Regions from separate parts of the Homo sapiens genome. Here all the other regions are linked to region 2. Evidence: fine-mapped expression QTL. A gene starts in region 2. Each other region holds a variant in brackets. All regions are shown on one strand. Distances are from middle to middle.

Region 1 (4,162 bases), 57 kb after region 2:
TTTGAGTTTCAAAAGTGAGGTCTTCTGGGAGGAAAGGGAATAATACACTTTGCTTAAATAATATTTGAGAGTTTTGGCAGGCTATGTTATTCAGAAAATATCTTCCACTAAAAACAGCTTAAAATGCTAGATAAAATATAAAGAGCATCTTCTTAAAAGCACTGAAAAGACAAGATAGCAAAGACTTACTAGGCCTAACTGAAAGGAAAATGGGCACACAGTGAAGCTCATAAGAAAAGAAGTGATTTTTGTTCAAGGGCATTTGCCAGTTCTAGCGAGAACCACATGGGGTGATAAGGGCCCAGGACCCACACAAGTTGAGAGTATGATAAGAGACCCCGTATATAGAAAGCTGGGATCTCAAAAAACCACAACCTCAGAGTGAGTGTAATCCAGAAGCAAACTTACATGGATTTATAGTCAAAGTGTTCCTCATCTGAATGTCCAGAGAGTATCAAACCTTGAACTTGGTTTAAGAACCAGTAATGATCTCAGGTGCCTGGCAGAAGCAAATATGAAAGTCTCTGAAGAAAGTTATCATCTTCCAAGGTCACAAATTATTCCAATAGTACCCAACACATTCTTGAAGATAACAGGTACACAAGGAAACTAGGAACCATGAGCAAGAACCAGCAGAAAGACAGCTAGCAGGAAAGACCCATGAAAACCTCAGAAATCGGCATTATCAGACACGTTATATGTAACAATATGTTTACTATGTTTAAATAAATAAGATAAGTTTGAAAAAGTAGGGAGCAAGTAGGAAACTATAAAAAGCAGCATGGCAGATTTGAAAAAAAGTGAATAGAACTTCTAGAAATGAAAAATACAGAAATGAAGGTAAAAACTTAATAGATGAATTTAATGACAGACTAGATAAAGCTGAAAAGAAAACTGAACATTAGGTCAGAAGAATTTACCTGGAATGTAATACAGGGAGATTAAAAAATATAAAAGACAATGAAAGAGAATAAGAGACATAGAAGTCAGAGGAGGAAAGTCTAAAATATATTTAAATAGAATCCCAGAAGGAGAGTAGAGAGAGGATGGGGCAGAGCACTATTTGAAGAGATTAGCTGAGGTTTTCTGGAACTGATGAAAAATAACAATGTCTATCTCTGAGAAGCCTATGAATCCATAGGGGGATAAATGAGAAGAAACCATACCTAGAAACATTGCAGTGAAAAATGCAGAAACCAAAGAGCGAAAAAAATTTGAAAGCAGCTGGAAAAAAAGACAGGTTACTTCCAAAGAAATGGCAGTCTAATAGCTGACTTCTCAATAGAAAATGGAAACCAGAAAATGGTAGAATATTTTCAGTGTGCTGAAAGTAACAACCAACTTGTAATTTTAATACCAAGAGGAAATTTACAAATAAGATAAAAAATTTGTTTTATGATCAAAACAAAGTTTATCACCTCAGTGAAGAAAAATTCTGAAAGAAGAAAGTGATCATCTCACATGTTGGATGTAAGAACTAAGAAAACCTAAGAAGAATTAAAGAAGAAGAAAAGTGGTAAAAATGTAGATAAATCTACATGAATACTAACTGCAAATACACACACACAGACACACACGTATTTTATTTATATATATATTTATGTATAAAATAAAAATTATGTTTTGTGGGGGGTAAATAATTAAAATATTGCCAACTATAATATATAAATTAGGGGCAGGGGAAAATGGAGTTAAAGTATTTGAAAATCCTAGTGTTATCTAGGAAGAGGAAGTGATTTTGATTAACTTTTGATTTTGATATAGTAATCATCCAGACTTCTGTGGCTTCTGTCTCCCTTTTACGCCAGCCAACAGAAACTTTCCATCTACTTCTTCAGATCGGCTACTTGAAAAAACATTCCCGCAGCTAACCTGCTGGTCCCTAGTAA[T/G]ACTCATCATTTCCTTATATCATAGTTCTCTCCTTCCCAGAGTCCCAGGGTGTGGGTGTGAGGCAGAGAGCTGGGTTACAGTGACAGTCAAGTGCAGCCTCACTTCTCACCTGGATTTACAGCCTCTAATATCCCAGCTCTGCTGCCCAGTAAAGCCTTCTCTACCAGATGTCTTTTATACACAGTGACTTTGCCTCAAGGGCCCATCCTCCTTCCTCCCGTATGTCCCCTCACTCCTCCTTTTCCTCCTCTTCCTCTTTCTCCTCCCTTCTTCTTCCTTCTTCCTCCTCCTCCTCCTCCTTCTTCTACTTTTTCTTCTTCTCCTTCTCCTCTTCCTCCTCTTTCTCCCTCTTTTTTCCCTCCTTTACCCCAGTTTGACCTTCAGGAAATTCCACTCCACCAGCTGCACATGTTTAAATGCCAATAATAGGCCAAGCTCAAGTTCTCTACCACAGAGCTTCTGGGTAGCTTGCAAACCAGAGTGGACATATGTCTTTAGCAGTCTTATTTTACCTAGAGCCCTCAGAGAACCTTTCTTTGAGAAGAGTGTTGCCTCATTCTATCAGGGAGGGTTTCAACAGAGCTCCTGTTCTGCCCAGCCAAGAAACATTGCCACACTAGGCATGTGACTTTCAGCAAATCATCTACATTCATTGAGCCTTGATTTCCACATTCCTAAAATGCGAATAATAATGTCTACCCGACAGAGTTGTTTCAAGAACTAGGAAGAACGAATATGAAAAGAGTCTGGTACAGGGGATGTGGAACGTGGAAACCCTTGTACACTGCTGATGAGCATACAAATAGGCACAATCACTTTGGAAAACTGGTGTTATCTACTAAAGCTGAACAGATGCCTATCCTATGACCCAGGAATTCTCTTCCTGGATATGCATCCAACAGAAATGCATTCATCTGTGCACCAAAAGATATATACTAGAATGTTTAGAGCAACACTATTCATGACTGGTGCAGAGAGAACATATTCCCAAACTGGAAACAGTTTAAATGTCCCAGTAGTAGAATGGACAAATACATGTTGGTATTCATCAACTCATATAGAATAGTAGGCAGTCATGAGAATGAGTGAACGACATACAAGTATATGCAATAATACAAATGAATTGCACAATGAAAGATGCCAGACACAAAATAGCATATGCTGTCTTACTGCATCAAATCCAGACAAAATTAGTTTATAATATTAGAAGTTATAATGAGGCCAGGTATGGTGGCTCATGCCTGTAATCTCAGCACTTTGGGAGGCCAAGGCAGGAGGATCATTTGAGGTCAAGAGTTCAAGACCAGCCTGGCCAACGTGGTGAAACCCTGTCTCTTCAAAAAAAAAATACAAACAATTAGCTGGGCATGGTAGCGCATGCCTGTAATCTCAGCAACTCGGGAGGCTGAGGCAGGAGAATCACTTGAAACTAGGAGATGGAGGTTGCAGTGAGCTGAGATCATGCCACTGTACTCCAGCCTGGGCGACAGAATGAAAATCTGTCTAAAAAAAAAAAAAAGTTAAGATGGGAGGAGGAAAGGATGGTGTCTGGATGGGTCACTAGGAATGAAATGTATGCTGAAGACACAATTACAACTACAGTCCTCCCTTTAGTTGCCCAAATTTGGCAAAAGACATAAACCTACAGATTCAAGAAACTGAGAGAACGCCAAACAGAATAAACCCAGTGAAACTTGTGCCAAGGCACATCATAGTAAAACTTCTGAATCTAAAGACAGAAAAAAATCTTGTTTTTTTCAACCTTTCTGTTACCTTAAGATTTCTTTTTGTCTTGTTGTTGTTAAGAAAAAAAATCTTGAAAACAATAAGACAGAAAGGACACCTTGCCTATAGGAGAAAAACAGTTCGAATGACAACAAATTTCTCCCCAGATATCATGAAAGCCAGAAGGAAGCGGCACAACACATTTTTTTTTCCTTTTTTTTTTGAGATGGATTTTGGCTCTCGTTGCCCAGGCTGGAGTGCAGTGGCACCATCTGGGCTCACTGCAACCTCCGCCTTCCGGTTTCAAGCAATTTTCCTGCCTCAGTCTCCTGAGTAGCTGGGATTATAGGCGCCTGCCACCAGGCCCAGCTAATTTTTGTACTTTTTAGTAGAGATGGGGTTTCACCATGTTGGCCAGGCTGGTCTTGAACTCCTGACCTTGTGATCTGCCCGCCTTGGCCTCCCAAAGTGCTGGGATTACAGGCATGAGCCACCGCGCCTGGCCTGACACAACATTTTTTAAGTGCAGAAAGAAAAGTACTGTCAA
Region 2 (4,162 bases):
GTTTTCTGGTATTTGGTTAAGTATAGTATAAGGATTTGGCACTATAGGATGTAAGAGAATTATGACCTCGTTAATGGCTCCTAAGTCTTGAACTAGATCATATATATATATATATATATATAATTTTTTTTTTTTGAGATGGAGTCTCACTCTGTTGTCCAGGTTGGAGTGCATGGCACAATCTCAGCTCACTGCAATCTCCGCCTCCCGGGTTCAAGCGATTCTCCTGCCTCAGTCTCCCCAAGTAGCTGGGATCACGTGTGCCACCACGTTTTTAAAGCATGGCCTCCTGTCCTTCCTGTCCAAAAACCAAATGAAAAATATGGTCTAGGTTGGGTGCTGTGGCTCACACCTGTAATTCCAGCACTTTGGGAGGCCGAGGTAGGTAGATCATCTGAGGTCAGGAGTTTGAGACCAGCCTGGCCAACATGGCAAAACCCTATCTCTACTAAAAATACAAAAATTAGCCGGGCGTGGTGGCGGGCACCTCTAATTCCAGCTACTCTGGAGGCTGAGACCGGAGAATTGCTTGAACCGGGAGGCGGAGGTTGCAGCGAGCCAGGATTGCACCACTGCACTCCAGCCTGGACGACAGGGTGAGACTCTGGGGAGTGGGGAGGAGAGAATTAACAAACTATATGACACAAAGGAACAAAAATACACAAGACAGGATAAGAGAGAGGAAGGATACAGGGAGAGCTAACATACATATAGCAGTTTGAAGTCCCGGGAAAGGAGAAAAAAATGGGGAGGAGCAATATTTGAACAGATAATATCTGAGAAACTCCCCAGACTGATCAAAGACATCCAGTCACAGAGTCAAGAAACTAGGAGTCCTAGAATAAATAAGTAGAAAGCCACACCTAGCAACTCAGCTGTCAGCCTAATTGAACTTAATATGCCCTTTCTTCTCTGGCTGCCTGTAAATCACCAATTTTTCAAATGCTGTTAGAACCAGCTGTACCATCCTGCTGGGTCCTTCATTCCTGGCTTGAATGTGATCTTTGACCCTGTATTTATTTTATACTTGCGTGAGTTATGTTTTTAAACTTTTTGACAACTATACTTTGAATATACATGAAACATAGGATTCATAAGACAATACTTTTTTTTTCTTCTTGCTGTACGTTTTCCGTACTATGTTACTCTTTCCATTTTATTAAAAATAATTCTGGCCATCATCTACGAAATCTGGTCTCAACCTGCAGTTTGAAATATCCTGCCTTGGCAGACGCGGCAGGGAGGTGCGTGGAGGGAGAATTGAATTAAAAAAAAAAACAACAAAACACGAATATTTAGATTTCTTTGTTCAGCGGCCCCCCTCCAGGGATCAGATGACTGGCCCCCCTCGCTCCGAACTGACTCCGGGATCAATCCGGAAGGCCATTGGGAGAAGCCGAGGGCAGCTTAGCCACGGCCGGTTCCCGTTCCCTCCAGGACGCGAGGGTCGCCTTGGGTGGGGAACCGCGACCGGGCGAGGACCTATCCCGGTGTGGGGCTTCCCGATTTCGAAAGAATCTCGCTGCACCCCCGCCCAGAGTTCAGACCAAGCGAAAAGTTATTTGAGAGGCCTCGGGGGCGCGGGGTGAGGAGTCGTGGCGGAGGCCTTGGTCGGGGCGCCGTGGATATCCCCGAGTCACCGCGTCCCTCTCCTGCAGCTCCCGCGTCGCTGGGAGGAGCGAGGGAGCGAGCGGGAAGGGGTCTAGCTGGCCTTTGCTCGGCCCTCCCCAGCGCCCGGCTTTGAACCCGCCCTGCACTGCTGTCTGGGCGGGTCCGGGGACTCAGCACTCGACCCAAAGGTGCAGGCGCGCGAGCACAACCCATGGCTGCGCTGGGCTGCGCGAGGCTGAGGTGGGCGCTGCGAGGGGCCGGCCGTGGCCTCTGCCCCCACGGGGCCAGAGCCAAGGCCGCGATCCCTGCCGCCCTCCCCTCGGACAAGGCCACCGGAGCTCCCGGAGCCGGGCCTGGTGTCCGGCGGCGGCAACGGAGCTTAGAGGAGATTCCACGTCTAGGACAGCTGCGCTTCTTCTTTCAGCTGTTCGTTCAAGGCTATGCCCTGCAACTGCACCAGTTACAGGTAACCCGCGGGGGCATCGCGTCCTGGGGATGGGAGTGGGCACCGGAACAGAGAGGCTAGAGGTGAGAAGACGTTGGACAGAAAGTGAAGGCTGCAGGAACTCAGCTGGGGACCCACTGAGGCTATGGTCATAAACTGGAAATCAGTAGGGAGAATGGGCAAAGTGCAGACAGAGCCCTTTGAGCTGAGATAAACAGGACGAGGAAGGGCTTAAATCAGGACGGCACCAGTAAGGGGGGGATCTGGACGCCGGACTTACAGTGAGCAGAGGTTGAGGAGGGAGCTGTCTTGGGAAGAGAGTGGCAGAGGCAAATGTGTAAGCTAACGGATATTATGGAATCACTAATTCTGGGCTGATATTGGCTACCACAGACTTCTTCCAAACGAAATAACTTCAGGAGGATTATAGAAACCTCTTGGTTATTTGCAAGGTAAATTTCCTCTTAGGGGAAAACACAATGCTGCATCTCAGATCGTGGAAGCAAACTCACAGACAGTAAGGAAAAGGTACTTTTTGTTATTAAGAAATCAGTCTGAGGCCGGGTGCAGTGGCTCACACCTGTAATCTCAGCACCTTGGGAGGCTGAGGTGGGCAGATTACCTGAAGTCAGGAGTTTGAGACCAGCCTGGCCAACATGGTGAAACCCCATCTCTACTAAAAATACAAACATTAGCCGGGCATGGTGGCACATGCCTGTAATCCCAGCTACTAGGGAGGCTGAGGTAGGAGAATCGCTTGAACCAGGGAGGTAGAGGTTGTGGTGAGCCAAGATTACGCCATTGCACTCCAGTCTGGGCAACAAGAGCGAAACTCTGTCTCAAAAAAAAAAAAAAAAAAAGAAAAAAAGAAAAAAGAAATCAGCCTGTAGTCTGTGTTCAGGTTAGTGGTGTTGGGGGAGAAAACCAATGTCTAATAAGAAAGTTTTATACAGCAGAACACAGAAATGAGGCAGGGATGAACAGCTCACTGCTCACTGACAGAGACCGGAAAACCCAACACTGACCAATGTTGGAGAGGATTTAGGGAATGAACCAAAGGGGTTCATACAGGATCTATCTTCCTAATGACTATCAACAAATATGAATGCACCTACCATGTTCTAGGCATGGTTCCAAGTACTGGGATTCAGTGAGATGAGGCTTCTGCCCTCATGGGGCTTAAATGCTCCTCTGAAGAAGATGGAGGACAAAGAGATAAAGCAACAAAAAGTTAACTTCACAGAGAGAACTCTGGGGGAGAAGCTGTTCTAAGGTTGGGGAAGAGGGAGGGGGCTTCGATTCGGGGTGCCTCCACAAGGACACTTGGTTGTCAGGGACTGATAGGAGTAGGCTGGTCCTGGGCTGGGGTAGCCAACCATCTGCTGGTCATGTGTCTGTGCTGGGAAGGAGTCAAAAGTAAGGAGGAGCTGTGGGGACTGGGGACAGGACTGGCCTTTGAGGACAGCCTTGAAGATCAAGATAAGGGCCCTGGTTCCTCTGAGGGGCCATGGTGAGCTCTTGAGCAAGCATGGGGTGAAGACGGCCTGCATGGAACACTGTCCAGGCTGTGGTGTGTGTAGTAGGAGAGGTGCAGAGGGTCTAAGGTGATGAAGGCTCAGGCGTGGCAGGATCCAGGATGGAGAGGCAGATCTGAGCCACACTCCAGAGAAAACTGGAATGGAGGTTGAGGATGAGGGAGAAGATGACTCTGAGGGCAACGAAGGGCAAAACTGACTACAACCAGGGCTGCATCCTCTGCCCTGTCCTGGTGGCTGCTGTCTCTCCTGCAATCTTCCCTGTTGGGCTCATGTTTGTGAGACTTGGGGATGTGAAAATAAATAATTCAAAACCTAAGCTGTTGGAACTTTAAAATATTTTGAGCCTTAAGGGAATGTGATTATGTGATTATGGCACTCAAGTCACATAAGCAGGCTGCTGTAACCTTTGTTTCTCTGATTTTAGATTAACTTTCTTTACCTCTGTTGTTTTGAAAATGTTGTAAATGTCTACAGGAGGCCAAGGAAGATGCCTTCCCTCTTCACTGTTGAACTTCATTATAGATTAACTTCCTTTTACCTTTCTCACGCAAAGATTTCATGCCTATCG
Region 3 (4,162 bases), 150 kb before region 2:
TTGGGCCACATCTTTTTTTTTAAAATGAAATCTTACGCAAAATAGATAAACGCAGAACCATCCTAGTTGAAGCACCCATTTGGCTCTCTCCTGGGTGCCCTAGTGACTCCTGAGACATTTTTGTACTTCTTGGTCTTCTTAAAGGCCAGCTTGAAAACCAGTGATGAGCGGGTGTGTGTTTGTATGTGTAACATTATTATATTGGGTAAGTAGGGGTTACTGGAATGATTGTTGTGATCTCAACCAAAGTGGGCATAGAGAAAGCTTTTTGGAAAGGATGAGTTTTAGGAAGGGCCAGCAGTAGCCAGAGGAGCAGGAAGGAGAGCATTTTGAGGTGGGGAACGTGAAGGCTCTGAGAAGGCTGTGCTAGAGTGGTCCATCTCCCTATGGGGAAGGGAGGCAGAGGGAGAAGGGATGCCATTGGTGGGGCCTCCAAGATCCTGGTTTGAAGTCTGCCTTTCTCTTGTGTACTTGCGTGGCTCACTCAGCTGACTGACTCCTAGCTTATCCTGTGCTTTCTGGGGCTGTGGTGTCTAACCTGCTGCCATGTCCAGGGATGGAAATGGGAATTCAGGAGACAAATCCAAAGATATTACTCTGGGACTCTCACATCCTTCCAGGTGTGACTTACATGACCATTTGCATACCTTGACATATCTGTCTGGATTCATGTACATTTTGACCAAAGGTTATTGTTCCTTTGTTTTAAATGAGAGGGAGGGAGGATAATGCCTCTCTGTTTAAATATAATAATAAATTTAAAACCTGTCACCCAGGATATAACATAGAGCAAACACAAGCCCAGAGGTTGACACTGATCCCAGCAGTACATGCAGACCGCCTTTATTCCCATTCCCACCCCCAGGTTGTGACGTGCCCGCTGTTTTGTCCGTCTATCTGTTGTCAGATTGTGGCCCAGGCTCCTATTTCCAAGCCTGAGTCCCTTCTCTTGTCCCGGCAGGTGAGGCAGGAGGGAGAATACAGTGGGGAGGCAGTGGGCAGAGGTTTAGGTTGGATGGCCATTATCTTCTTCTCTCTCAGACTGCTGAGGGTTCAATTCCATCTTCTTTTCCACCTTCTCCAGAAATCCAAGCCCATCTTGTGTCCAGCCCTCTCTTCCCTGGTTATCTACTTGAAGTCTGTCTCATTCCGCAGCTTCACACATTCAAAGGAGCACTACCACTTCTACGAGATATCATCTTTCTCTGAAACCAAGGCCAAGCGCCTCATCAAGGAGGCTGGTCAGGACCAAAATGGAGGGATGGGGAGGGAAGTGGGATGGATAGGTTCAGGCCTGATGGACTGGCAGGTAAGTCCCAAGAAAAAAGACAAGGTAGCTAAGGAGAGATGAAGGAGTTCAGAAACTCCTTAGAGCAGACAAGGGCAGAGGAGTTATGAATAGTGGCTCAAGGGTCTAGGGGCAGGAAAGCTGGTCTGGATGGACAGAGTAGAGAGGCACAGTGAAACTTTCTGGAGCCAGCTTCAGATGCTGGAGAGAAGGGTGAAGAGTAGGCATGGTCCTTGGGACTAGGGAAGTGGGAGATTCCACCCCACTTCCATCTCCCTCTCTATACCCTTTTACAGGCAATGAGTTTGTGCAGCACAATACTTGGCAGTTAAGCCGTGTGTATCCCAGCGGCCTGAGGACAGACTCTTCCAACTACAACCCCCAGGAACTCTGGAATGCAGGCTGCCAGATGGGTGAGGAGGCAGCAGGGACTGGGAAG[A/C]GGGAGTGGAGGAGCAGCAGGTGGGAAATAAGTTCTCTAGTGATGGTAGGGTTGGGGAATGCTCAAGAAAATTGCTAGGCTGAGAAATGCTATCAGTGGATATTACCAGCAGGTACCGTGCACCCAGTACCTATCTTCTTAACTCCCTGAAAGAGGGGCTGGAAGGCCTCCATGGTGAATCTTGCTCTTCTTTTCTCCTGGGGCCCTCAGTGGCCATGAATATGCAGACTGCAGGGCTTGAAATGGACATCTGTGATGGGCATTTCCGCCAGAATGGCGGCTGTGGCTATGTGCTGAAGCCAGACTTCCTGCGTGATATCCAGAGTTCTTTCCACCCTGAGAAGCCCATCAGCCCTTTCAAAGCCCAGACTCTCTTAATCCAGGTACAGTGGAAATAAACTGTTGGGAAGAAACTGAGATAACTGGGATAGAAGTGAGGGAAGAGGTGGCTAGGCCTGACCGGAATGTAGAGGCCGGATAGCCTATTAACAGTGTCTAGTTTTAGCTTTTGGAGCCAGCTGCCTAGCTTCAAACCACAACTTCCTAATTGGGTAATGTTGGGCAAGTTCCTTAACCTCTCCATACCTCAGTCTGCTCACCTGCAAAATAGGGGTAACACTACCACCTGCCTCACAGGGTTATAAGGAGTATAACAGTTAATATAAAGTTCTTACAATTCCTGGCACACAGGAAGTGCTATAAAAGAGGCTGGCTGGGAGCGATAGCTTACACCTGTAATCCCAGCGCTTTGGAGGCCAAGGCAGGAGGACTGCTTGAGCCCAGGAGTTTGAGACCAGTCTGAAACTGGTCTCAACAAAAAATTTAAAAATTTTGTAGAGACTCCCGTCTCTACAAAAAATTTAAAAATTAGCCTGGCATGGTGGCACATGACTATAGATAGTCCTGGCTACTCAGGAGGCTAAGGCTGGAGGGTCACTTTAGCCCAGGAGATGGAGGTTGCAGTGAGCTATGACTGCCCCACTGCATTCCAGCTTGGTCAAGAGTATGATCGTGTCTCTTTGAAAAAAAAAAAGTGGCTGCTGTCATTAGCATGCCTACTTTCAAACTGTTGAATTTCTACCTGGATCCATTTAATTTATTTGTTTATTCTGAGACAGAGTCTTGCTCTGCTGCAGGCTGGAGTGCAGTGGCATGATCTTGGCTCACTGCAACCTCCGCCTCCTGGGTTCAAGTGATTCTCCCATCTGAGCCTTCCGAGTAGCTGGGACTACAGGCGCCCGCCACCATGCCTGGCTAATTTTTGTATTTTTAGTAGAGATAGGGTTTCACCATGTTGGCCAGGCTGGTCTCCTGGTTTCAAGTGATCTGCCCACCTCGGCCTCCTGAAGTGTTGGGATTACAGGTGTGAGCCACCGTGCCCGGCCTTTGGGTGCATTTTAAATTGCAGATAGAATACTAGAAGAAAATATATTACCCATGGAGGATGTTTTACAAACCAAAAAGCTTCTTCTCCCCTGGGGTTGGGAGTAGGGTCGGGTGGGGCTGGGCTGAGCAGGAACTTGTGAGATTCCAGAGCCCTGACTACAGGTGATCAGCGGTCAGCAACTCCCCAAAGTGGACAAGACCAAAGAGGGGTCCATTGTGGATCCACTGGTGAAAGTGCAGATCTTTGGCGTTCGTCTAGACACAGCACGGCAGGAGACCAACTATGTGGAGAACAATGGTGAGAAACTGGCAGTGCTGGGGAGGTGGGGGTAGGAGCATGATTAGTTTTCCTTCTAGTCTGTCTTCCATTAAGTATAGCATCTGTTATTGCATGTCCCCACATGGGAGGCAGTGTGGAACAGTACAAAGAATCCTGGCTCTTCACTTAAAAGCTCCAGTGACCTGGGCAAATTACTTGCTTACTCTGAGCCTTTTTCCTTACCTGTAAAATGCTGATTGCCATCTAGATTAAATGAGAACACAAGAAAAGCAACCCAGTCAAGAAAACTGTCATAATGTCTTCTTATTTCTTTCTGTCCACCAACTCAGGTTTTAATCCATACTGGGGGCAGACACTATGTTTCCGGGTGCTGGTGCCTGAACTTGCCATGCTGCGTTTTGTGGTAATGGATTATGACTGGAAATCCCGAAATGACTTTATTGGTCAGTACACCCTGCCTTGGACCTGCATGCAACAAGGTGAGCCAGCCCCTTTGGCCCCTGGCCAATACCCCAGCTCTGGCTGCCTTCCTAATGCTGTCCTCCTGCCCCTTCCAGGTTACCGCCACATTCACCTGCTGTCCAAAGATGGCATCAGCCTCCGCCCAGCTTCCATCTTTGTGTATATCTGCATCCAGGAAGGCCTGGAGGGGGATGAGTCCTGAGGTGGGCATTTCACGGGAAGGGTTGGTGTGCTGGCTTTAGACGGGGAGAAACATCTGGAAGGATGCTCGAGAGAACAAATGGAGGTGGTGAAAATCAAGCTTTGG
Region 4 (4,162 bases), 37 kb before region 2:
TCATTTCAAGAATGTTACACAGATAGAATCACAGCAGTATGTCACCTTTTGACATTGACGTTTTTTCATTCAGCATATTCTTTGGAGACTGACCGGGGTTGTTGCATGTATTAATAGTTCTCATTCTTTTTTATTGCTGGATAGTGTTCTGTGGTATGGATGTACCACAGTTTGTTTAACCGTACACCTGTTGAAGGATATTTGGGTTGTTTTCAGGTTTTGGCTGTTATGAATAAAGCTGCTATAAATAATCATGTACATATTTTTCTGTCAATGGAAGTCTTCATCTCTCTGGGATAAATGCCCAGGAGTGCAATTGCTAGGTTGTATGGTGGTTACATGTTTAGTTTTTTTAAGAAACTGCCAAAATTGTTTTCCAGAGTGGCTGTACCATTTTACGTTTCTATCTTTTTTGTTTTGTTTTGTTTTTGTTTTTTTGAGATGGAGTTTTGCTCTTGTTACCCAGGCCGGAGTGCAATGGCGTGATCTTGGCTCATTGCAACTTCTGCCTCCTGGGTTCAAGCAATTCTCCTGACTCAGCCTCCCGAGTAGCTGGGACTACAGGCATGCGCCACCATGCCTGGCTAATTTTGTATTTTTAGTAGAGACGGGGTTTCCCCATGTTGGTCAGGCTGGTCTCCAACTCCCAACCTCGGGTGATCCGCCTGCCTCAGCCTCCCAAAGTGCTGGGATTACAGGCATGAGCCACTGCACCCGGCCTCTATCTTTGTTTTTAAATTTTAACTCATTCTTATTGACTTTCAACAATCTTAAATTCTCATACTCAGTAAACCAAAAGCCTTTGAAGAAAAAGTTTGAAAATGAGGAATAGAGTTGAATTAATTAGAATTTTTCATTGGGAATTAGTATTTAACTTGATTCCATAAAATTCATTAAAAATCTTTAAGAGTTAAAACACTGAAGTGTTTCACATACAGTGCCTATTTCTGTTGTGCTGAAAATAATAACAGGTAAAGTGACTTTTTTAAACTAAAAATTAATGTTATAATAATATTCGTGGATTATATTATCTAAGTTGTAAAGAGTAATAGCTATTTTCTCCATTTTTCAGTGCTAGTTAAAGGAATGATCTTGGTCTCTCAGCTTGTACCTGACAGGTAGTTGATATGTTTGCTATGTTGACACCCCTTGAGACAGCCTTGGCCAAGCCCTTGTTGGATTAACAGTAGGGACCCCCATGGCCCACTGTCCCACATCAGCCACATCTCTTCATCACATCCATATCTGTGTTCCCATACTGTTACATAAAATTACAGTGTCACAAATCACTTCCAAAATGGAGAAAAGCACTAATGGTTCATGAATCTTTAGATGAACCTAAATATAAAATGAACTGGAAGTATCACTGTTTCTTTTCTTTCTATTGCTTTTTCCCCTTTTTTTATTTAAAAGTCTCTACACCTCAGATCTTGTTTGGTTTTCCTCCTTCGTAATTTTTACATCATTCTTTTCTCTCATTTATTTCTTTGTCTTAGCATAGCACGTTCTGCTACTGGTATCCACCCACATTCATTTCCCCTCTCAGAACTACTCCTGTCAGGGACTTTCCCAGCCAATGTCTTGTCACGGGAAATTTTGGAGCTGTATTGCAGAATGAAGTGTTGGAAAACCTTGTCTTTAGGTGACATTTAATGGTGTGGTTGTATGTAGGTTAGCCTAGTACCTTATGGATTAATATGTACAAAATAATTATTAATTATTGAGCACCTGGCTTTTTAGAATCACAAGTTAAAAGACAGCACTTGGAAATAAATCGTACGTCGTAGTAACGACGCTTCAGGGCTGTTGCTTTTTCCCTTTCTCTACTCCATGTTTGTTTTTCGTCTTAGAAGCTGTATGGAAATTCTGACCAAACCCCTTTCCAATCATGAGAAAGTTGTCCGACCAGCCCTCATCTACAGTCTCTTTCCCAACGTTCCCCCTACCATCTATTTTGGCACTCGGGATGAGAGAGGTAAACCTGGCCAAGTGTCAAAGCCCAGAAGAGCCCCCGGGGAGAAGGTTGCTAGCTAAGTTGGGAGGAGGTGGCAGTAGGTAGGAGAGGGTTTCCAGAATGGCTGTTGTGGCAGTTGTCACACTGTGCTCAGTTCCCCATGTGGTCGTAGGTCTGATGCA[A/C]CCTTTTTCTTGTCTGTCCTTTAGCTGACCCTTTTCAGCCTTGCCATGTCATGCTGAGTTCATGCTCTTCAACCTTGTTGCTTTTCCCTTTCAGTCTTCCCTTTCTTTGTTCCTCATTCCTGCACAGCCCCTCTTCTTTCCCAAAGTGTGCTCCTCTGAAACCCTGATCTGGAGCAATAGTTAGTGACTTGCCTGCCCAGGGAAGAATGGGCAGCCATGCCATCTTTTTTGTCTTCTCATCATGACTCTCTGCTCCTCTCCATCCCCCATCCCCACACCCCTTGCATTCTTCCCAGTGGAGAAACTTCCCTGGGAACAGAGGAAGTTGCTCCGATGGAAGATGAGCACAGTGACCCCCAACATTGTCAAGCAGACCATTGGACGGTCCCACTTCAAAATCAGCAAAAGTGAGTTGCTTGCCTTACTGTGAGCCTGTCCTTTTGCCCCAAATAGATGGGCTTTGCATAGGGGGAGAGCTCTAGACACCTCGTGCCTATGTCGGGGCAGCTGGGGCCCTCTCCTGAAATCCAACCTCATAGGAGGGTGTAGCTCTGAAATCCTGGACTGAGCCTGTTGTTCAGAATTGAGAGACAGAGGGCCATTGTTCTGTCCCTGGCCCCAGGGCCTCATGTAGGACAGCTCCATAGCAACTCTTTGAAAACCAAGTCTGGGAGCTCTGCCCAGTTCTGGGGCCTCTGGGCCTCTCTCTGTCCCTGGACTGAGCTGTTAGCAAGGCTGATTCCTGATGTACCTCCCATAGGAAACGATGACTGGCTGGGCTGCTGGGGTCACCACATGAAGTCTCCTAGTTTCCGATCCATTCGAGAGCATCAGAAGGTAGGGGTCCTTTCTGAGGAGCTGTTTCCCTGGACTTTGGACTAGGCCAAGAGGAGGGGGATGATGTGAGTAGGGGGTAGGGGGCGGGAAGAGGATGATGACCATGGAGAAGTCAGGAAGGTGTACAGAGGAGAAAGTACAGGACGGGGGTACAGTGAGAGACTCCAGTGGATCACGTACATCTCCAGTTCAGCTGCAGTATCTTGGAGTTTCTTGCCTATGTAGGGGGCAGCTGAGTCCCTCTCCTGAACTCCAACCTCATAGGAGGGTGTAACTCTGAAATCCTGCAGTTGCAGCTTCTCCAAGATGCTTTTTCCTCTAATGTGTCTTGAGTTAGATTGTCTGTTTTCTGTTTATTATGTTTCCCTATGATCACTGCACATTCCATTCTCCCAAGCTGAATATGTGTAAAGAGGACTTCTGGTCTCACATTGGAATGAATGAGTCCCTTGCCTCCAGACTTACTAAAGGCGAAATGCTTTTCTGTCCTCATCCCATAGGGTTTCATGGATAAAGATGTAATAGCTTTTTCTTTGCACTTAAGGTGAATATCACATCTGGCTTACATTACTCTGTTTTGTCTGTGTTTTAATCATCTTTTGGTGAGTGCTCTGCAGTTGGATACTTGAGGACCATTAGGGTGGTGATAGTAAGATGGAACAAAAGCTTGGAGTGCTGCTAAAGAAGTTGGAATGGTAGAATGAGTCTTGTCATCTTCCTCATGGCCTCACCTCTGCCCTCTTCCTGCACTCACCCTTTTCCCTTTTGTAGCTAAACCATTTCCCAGGCTCATTCCAGATTGGGAGGAAGGACCGGCTATGGCGGAACCTGTCACGTATGCAGAGCCGCTTTGGCAAGAAGGAGTTCAGTTTCTTCCCCCAGTCCTTTATCCTGCCCCAGGACGCCAAGCTCCTGCGCAAAGCGTGGGAGAGCAGCAGCCGCCAAAAGTGGATTGTGAAGCCAGTGAGTGAATCACAGTGGGCAGGAGACTATGGTCTGTGAGTGGGAACAACAGAGTATTGGACCTGGAGCAAATCTCATCTCCTTTCTGCTCCTAGCCAGCATCAGCTCGAGGCATTGGCATCCAGGTTATTCACAAGTGGAGTCAGCTCCCCAAGCGAAGGCCCCTCCTGGTACAGAGGTGAGCCTGTAGCACATATCCCTTACCCCATCCTCCCACCTCCTTGGC

Evidence for each region. PIP is the estimated chance that this variant, and not a neighbour inherited with it, causes the effect.
Region 1: its variant is the best candidate, but not a certain one, in a credible set for the expression of CYP27A1 in whole blood (TOPMed, PIP 0.85).
Region 3: its variant is the best candidate, but not a certain one, in a credible set for the expression of CYP27A1 in whole blood (TOPMed, PIP 0.54).
Region 4: its variant is the best candidate, but not a certain one, in a credible set for the expression of CYP27A1 in whole blood (TOPMed, PIP 0.86).

The regions. Positions count from the first base shown.
Region 1 is chr2:218,837,090-218,841,251 of GRCh38, forward strand. No RefSeq gene overlaps it. Among named protein-coding and RNA genes, the nearest start is that of PRKAG3, 7.4 kb to the left of the region's middle. The variant T/G (reference allele first, on the strand shown) is at 1,890.
Region 2 is chr2:218,780,361-218,784,522 of GRCh38, forward strand. It overlaps CYP27A1 (cytochrome P450 family 27 subfamily A member 1), which reads left to right and starts at 1,787. Exons shown (of 9, transcript NM_000784.4): 1 at 1,787-2,077. The coding sequence starts at 1,823.
Region 3 is chr2:218,632,521-218,636,682 of GRCh38, forward strand. It overlaps PLCD4 (phospholipase C delta 4), which reads left to right. Exons shown (of 16, transcript NM_032726.4): 11 at 1,085-1,241; 12 at 1,585-1,701; 13 at 1,938-2,110; 14 at 3,276-3,411; 15 at 3,723-3,872; 16 at 3,951-4,162. The coding sequence ends at 4,057. It overlaps ZNF142 (zinc finger protein 142), which reads right to left. Exons shown (of 11, transcript NM_001379659.1): 11 at 809-4,162. Among named protein-coding and RNA genes, the nearest start is that of ZNF142, 25 kb to the right of the region's middle. The variant A/C (reference allele first, on the strand shown) is at 1,728.
Region 4 is chr2:218,743,259-218,747,420 of GRCh38, forward strand. TTLL4 (tubulin tyrosine ligase like 4) reads left to right here. Exons shown (of 20, transcript NM_014640.5): 6 at 1,851-1,975; 7 at 2,433-2,543; 8 at 2,897-2,973; 9 at 3,745-3,936; 10 at 4,032-4,114. Among named protein-coding and RNA genes, the nearest start is that of TTLL4, 35 kb to the left of the region's middle. RefSeq lists enhancers at 1,557-2,756, 3,750-4,162. The variant A/C (reference allele first, on the strand shown) is at 2,137.